2 linked regions of the Homo sapiens genome follow. The protein of the gene in region 2 purifies or fractionates together with the protein of the main gene of each other region. This does not show direct contact. Each region holds a gene or a part of one and is shown on either strand. Other genes may lie near its edges.

Region 1 (3,653 bases), on a different chromosome or scaffold from region 2:
AAAACTTTGTTTTTCTTTTTCTTTCTTTTACAATAAATCTTCTTAAATATTTATTGGCTTAGAGCCACCATGTAATCGAGAGAAAATTCAGAAGCTAACAAAAGGTGCCGTTTCCCTGAGCAGCATTTCAGTGAAGGTTGGCTCAGTCACAAAAAATAGTTTCAATTTTCAGCAGAAAACAAATTACCTTCAAGGTCTCTCGCTCTTTCTGAGTCTTTTGGTTATACCAAGGTTCATCATTGTATGGGGTACTTTGCCAAACATACTTTAGAGTAGTGCATACTGCAGCTTTGGTCAGTAAGATAAATAAATATACAATCAGGAAAGCATTAATAGATCTGAAAAATAAGATAGCATGGATTTTAAAACCAAAGACATCAGTCAGATATGAATTAAACTACTGAGTCATCTAAAGCTTTTTCTGTGTACGACGCGTAACTACAGCACAAGCCTTTGTGTATTAACCTCAGTTATCATAGCTGCAGCATTACTTTCAAGTGGCAAAATGGAAAAGCTGGCCATGAACTGTTTATTGACCACCAATGCTCCCCCAAGTGCAATGGCTGACTAGCTGAACACACCTTATTAAGGTTCCTGTAAAGTGACAGGAGAGGTACACACATGCACACATACACACACCATTACTTACTCAACCCTTATAGAAAGAGTATCTTGTCTCCATTTCCCTGAATCCTAAATGTTTGGGGTAGAGGGCACGGTAGCAATGTGAAATCCTCAAGCTCGGTGTAGGTTCTTTCAGTTTAAAAGTGGAGCTATGGAAAGGGTGCCAGTGATATACTGGTTATCCATGCCAAATACAGGGTGAGGTCTATAGCAGTGGCAACTGGCTTGAGGATCTACGAGGCACTGCTTCAATAGGTGCCAGGAGACTATTATCTATATTATAGAACCAACTTGCATATAGCAACTAAAGGACTCCAAACCATTAACTCCACTAGCAAAAAGGAATGAATTTACAGTTCAAGTAAACTCTGCCCTTTAATAGCTATGTGAGCTTAGGTAAGTCACATACCATCTCCAAGACCATTTCCTCATCTGTAAAGTGGAGAGGTTAACATGAATTACTTCACAGTGTTCTTCAGAGGACTAAACCAAATCAGACATACAAATCATTGAGCACAGTTTCTGGTACATAAACAAGTGCTTAAAATTGTAGTTGCTATTATAATTGATGTTGTTTTTTGTTATGCTTGTTACTTGGAATTACCAAGAAAGTAACTATTTTAATCAATAATGACTAAATAAATTGTGGCGCATACTAACTTTTCAACAGCAGAACGTTTCTGAGATTTCCCTTGGTAGTTCAAAGCCATTTTGGTTTCCATTCCAGTGTAAACAGCAACTCCTAAGAAATTACAGAATATAATAAAAACTAAGAACTTGTCAACCAACTCCTCACCCAGCTGGCTCTATGAATTTTTAAGTCTATAAAAGTGGGAAATCTAGGCCCTCTTCCACTCACCAGTTGTATATCATTTATAGGATAATTTTAATTATATATAGTATTTGTCATATTTCGTCTTAGTTTACCACGTTATAAATTCCCAACACCTAAATGTAGGTTTAAATTAAATGGCAAACCTGCCATGTTTACTTTTTAATATGCACTATTTATTCACAGCCTTTACAAAGCATATTTTTTGATAGGTGTATCTTAAAAATTGTTCACCATATATCTTCTCGGTATTTTTTAGCGTAGCTCCTTTCAGCAAGAGATTTTCAGGTCCCAAAGACCTAAATAAAAAATGAACACAGCTTATCCAAACAAGCCAATAGCATCAACAACTCTGGGGACAGATTTTGCCCTGACACACACCTATCTCCAAGGGGTTCAGAATGTTATCTGTCTACTTATACCATATGCTTACTCCCCAGGACAAGCTGAAAGGTCCTTCACTCTGAAGTTACTTGAGGGTACAGCACAGATGGAAGCACAGTACGGGAGTAGCCAGCAACACACATAGGCAAAAAAAATACATGGGGGGGGATAAAAGGATTATGAATCATGGATAGCAAGACGAGAACAGAACAGAGCAGCAGATCGCAAGACACAAAAGCAGACAGCCATCAATAAAAGACAGGGAATGCAAACGTCAAGGTGGGAAAAATATACTGACATATTTGGAGAGAATAAACCCTCCTTTTGGGGGATCACTGGGGACCCTGTATTTCTTTAACTTTTTGAGTGTGGCTGTAAAGGCCAAGTGGAAAAGTTGCGGTAATTAATATGATGATAGAAGAGGAAAGAAAGCATCCCTTTTTGTATGAACTGCTTGATAAATTGTATGAAGGCTGATACATACAATTCGTATACATAAAACAATTCGTTTTAATGAAGCCTTTCATTTTACGTAAGTCCAGGTAGTTCTTCCAGCATTTTACCCACTGCTTACTTTCTCAATTACTCTCCCACTGTTCTCCAGTTATAATTCCAATGTTGTCAGCCACTTCACAACCGAGGATAATAAATAACATGGCTAGAACAGGTTTGGGAATATAATCCAAAATGTCTGGAGCTCTGCTATTTTGGAAACCATAAGCATTACTTCTAACAGCCCCCTCCCCACAACACAGAGACCCTATCACCACAACTCTACCAATCACAAGGTTAGTTGCTTATTCACCTTTATATTCCTTTTTTTTTTTTTTTTTTTTTTTTTGAGATGGAGTCTTGCTCTTGTTGCCCAGGGTACAGTGCAATGGCTCAATCTTGGCTCACTGCGACCTTCGCCTCCCGGGTTCAAGAGATTCTCCTGCCTCAGCCTCCTGAGTAGTTGGGATTACAGATGTGTGCCACCACGCCCAGCTAAATTTGTATTTTTAATAGAGATTGGGTTTCACCCCGTTGGCCAGGCTGGCTTCAAACTCCTGACCTCAGGTGATCCACCCACCTCAGCCTCCCAAAGTGCTGGGATTACAGGCGTGAGCTACCGCACCCGGCCTATATTCCTTTCTATAATAGAAAGGTATTTGGCTATTTTAGTTGATTTAACAGAAAAATAGACCCCCCCCCCCAACCAAAGGACAAATTAAAGAAACAGCAAACTTACCTGGCAACAGCCTCAAGACTATTACTGTAGATATTGATTCGCCCAACAAATCTGTAAAAAGAACAAAATTGCAAATGTGTTTTCTACATCCAGGTGAAATCCATGTACCAGAAATATGAGAATGAATGAAAATACAAATAATAAAACAGAGATAGATAAAACTGTGAATGAACTACAAAAGCCTATTATATTTCTGGGGGAAAAAAAGTTATGTTGAATTGATAAGGTGTATAACATTTTCATATAATTTTTAAATAACATGATGGGATTATAGGAGCAGAAACAAAGGTTCTCAATTGATTTTCAAGTTCTGTTTAACATCATGCATGCACACAACACCTCTCTCTTTTATAAGTTTATATAAATAACGTAACTTCTATCTTGGATCATGTGAAGAAAGGTTTCTGGTGCTAAAATACAATTTTCAAAACCGCTAGTTCAGTAGTTCTTACACTTGAGTGTGCATCAGAATCACTGGAGCGCTAATTAAACCACAGATTTCTAGGTCCCATCCCTGAGCTTCTGATTCAGGTTCCCCAGTAATGCTGCTGCTGCTGGTCCTGAAACCACTCTTTAAACCAT
Region 2 (3,075 bases):
ATGCAGGTATTTGGAGAACCACAGTGTAAACAGTGTTAGCATTACCATAATGCTGTAACCACCAAGATTCACCCTCACTCAGGAATCTCATCACCTCTCATGCTCATCATCTCAAGATGCACTGGCTTGTCCTGATGAAAATGTGCCTTTGGAAGGAGTCTAACTACAGGGCCGTTGGTCAACATAGCCTACACAATTTCTGGCAACAAGGTACAATTCCACATACCCACTACTTCCAAAGAGGCAAGTGCAAATCATACATGGAATCTCTCAGTAGAATACTTACCATATTTTTGCTATCAATTAAGTTCCTAGAGGTCAAGAGCTATATCCAATTCATCCGTATGTTCCTCAAAGCATGAAACAGAATGCTTCTCACTGAGTAGATGTTTAATAAGTGCTGTACTGAATTAATTTTTTTGGGGGGGGGGATGGAGTTTCGCTCTTGTTGCCCAGGCTGGAGTGGTGCAATCTCGGCTCACTGCAACCTCCGCCTTCTGGTTTCAAGCGATTCGCCTGCCTCAGCCTCCTGAGTAGCTGGGATTACAGGTGCGCACCATCACGCCCAGCTAATTTTTTGTATTTTTAGTAGAGATGGGGTTTCACCGCATTGGCCTGGCTGGCCTTGAACTCCTGACCTCGTCATCCTCCCACCTTGGCCTCCCAAAGTGCTGGGATTACAGGCGTGAGCCACGGCTCCTGGTCTGAATTAAATTTTACTTGGAAAATTTCTTGAGAATTTTCACATGTAATACATATGCAAAACATCCCAGAAGGGACAGACAAAATTCCTGCCATGAAGACCTTGTGGTGATGTTGAAGAGAAAGGACATGTGTATATGTATGAAATAATTTGAAAACAAGTCCAAGACAAAGTAAACGAGGGGAAGAGGAAACGCTTTGATTGAATATATGAGACCAGCTCTTCATATACCCTCACACTCACATATAGGTGGACTCCTGTGTTTACTTACCGGTTCCTTAAACATAATAAGTTAGATTAGCAAGCTCTAAAGTCAGAATGTTTGAAAAGCAGGGCCAGGCGCAGTGGCTCATGCCTATAATCCCAGCACTTTGGGAGGCCGAGGCGGGCAGATCACTTGAGGCCAGGAGTTTGAGACCAGCCTGGCCAACATGGCGAAACCACGTCTTCACTGAAAATACAAAAATTAGCTGGGCATGGTGGCCGGCACCTGTAATCCCAGCTATATAGGAGGCTGAGGCAGGAGAATTGCTTAAACCCGGGAGGCAGAAGTTGCAGTGAGCCAAGATTGTGCCACTGCACTCCAGCCAGGGCAACAGAGGCCGACTCTGTCCCAAAAAAAAAAAAGTAAGAATGTTCGAAAAGCAATATTTAGCTAGGTTCATAATGCACTCTCACTAATCTCTTTGACCAAAATAATCATTTTCCCTTATTAATATAACAAACTTGAGACACACTGTGCAGTTTAACATGGCCTCAAGGTCTGGGGTATAAAAATCACTAGATATGGCCAAAGAAAAAATACTGGGCAAGTGAAAATACAAAAGCGGAAAATAAGATTATTTCATAGACTTAGCACTGGCCTGCTTTTTCACTAAATTAATTTATATGTTTATTTTAACTAGGCATCTTGAAATAATAATTTAGAGTTACTTTTTTATCTGTTAGAACTTAAGCTCTCTAAATCTTGACCGAGTACTGAACTGAGTATGATTTGAATTTTCCTTAAAGATTTTAGAAAGCTTCAAAATAGAGTGGGACATTCTGTCCCATGCACAAGGCCCCGGTCAGAGCCTTTCAGGTGGAACCAGGGATGTATTTAGGGCTAAAAAATAAGCATGTTCCTTCAATAGCATCGGGTGTGTATTTGGCTACAGCTGTGACAAAATCCATCATCTGATTGAGGGATGAGAGGTTGAGGGAGTGGGGATAGGTATGAACTACGCAGGGCTTCTTAACTACCACCCTTTATGGAGCAAAACTACTCGCTGAGATGGCACAAGATGTAAGGCAAGAGAGAGATGAGAACTCACCACTCTTAGGCATTCACTTAATTAATTTAACCAAATAATTTCCAGGAATGCTTAGAAAAGTAAAACTTAATTATGAGCAACAGTTTGGTACCAGCTTGCAGAAGGTACCCTCAAGCCATCTCCCAAATATGTCACATTTTTAAAAATGATCTGCCTGTGCACACACACGGACATTTACTCAACATTCCCATACATTCAAACATTCAATCAAATTACATAGACATGTAATGCATATATATATATATATGATGAGAGGAAAAGGAGTAAATGAAAAAGAGGAAAAAAAGACAGAATGAAGTCAGAAGTGAGGTATAGCCAAGACAAGAGAATCGCTTGAGCCTAGGAGTTTGAGACTAGCCTGGACAACATAGTGAGATCCCACTTCTTAAAAAAAAAAGTTTAAAAAAAAGTGAGGTACAAACATGTAATCTGCAGACCATAAGATCCCTTGTAGTTATGAGAACCGAGCTACAAAGTTGCCTCTGGGTTTCCTAGCAGCCAAAGCAATGAAGGAAACACAACCAGATACAAGACTCCTGGCGTCCATTAAATGAAAGTAAGCTGGTTGATCAGGAGCAGCACAGCTTCTCCTGGTGCTAATACCAGAGAGAAGCTTCTTCTGGAATTCTTCCAACAGTGGCACTGTGTGCTATAGTAAATGGTGACTTCTACATCTTTCCCCTAACAATGGTAACCTAGGAATGGCAGGAGATGAATCATAAATAACAGAAGTAGGCCACTCTCTTCCTTTTTTATGACCCCTTTCCCTCACTGAACTCCTAGGCCTTCCTCTTCCACTCCCCCTGGGCCTCCTGTTGCTCTTTGGCTGTCCAAAAAAAAAAGGGCTGTCCAAAAATAAAGCAATGTCCAAAAAGCACCCCTTGCCTTCCTTTTACCCTGAACTGACCTGGCCCCAGAGTACCACATGTTGTGTGGGCCATCCTACAAAATTAAATAGCCCCTCCCCTTCCCTAATCAGAACCCCCATTCCCCTCATTTCAGCAAACATCATTTAGGTATTAAGAAGCAAGTCTTACGTCAGAATGACAGGCATATTAT

The links. Proteins that work in one complex are often made in the same cells at the same time.
Region 1: the proteins of KCNMB3 (region 2) and ATP11C purify together in Homo sapiens (affinity purification with mass spectrometry; one large-scale study listed by BioGRID and IntAct). This does not show direct contact.

The regions. Positions count from the first base shown.
Region 1 is NC_000023.11:139,796,989-139,800,641, forward strand, and holds part of ATP11C (phospholipid-transporting ATPase IG), read right to left. Parts: intron 3,123-3,653; coding exon 3,072-3,122; intron 1,756-3,071; coding exon 1,691-1,755; intron 1,367-1,690; coding exon 1,285-1,366; intron 339-1,284; coding exon 188-338; intron 1-187. UniProt on the Homo sapiens protein: Catalytic component of a P4-ATPase flippase complex which catalyzes the hydrolysis of ATP coupled to the transport of aminophospholipids, phosphatidylserines (PS) and phosphatidylethanolamines (PE), from the outer to the inner leaflet of the plasma membrane.
Region 2 is NC_000003.12:179,245,094-179,248,168, forward strand, and holds part of KCNMB3 (calcium-activated potassium channel subunit beta-3), read right to left. Parts: intron 1-3,075. UniProt on the Homo sapiens protein: Regulatory subunit of the calcium activated potassium KCNMA1 (maxiK) channel. Modulates the calcium sensitivity and gating kinetics of KCNMA1, thereby contributing to KCNMA1 channel diversity.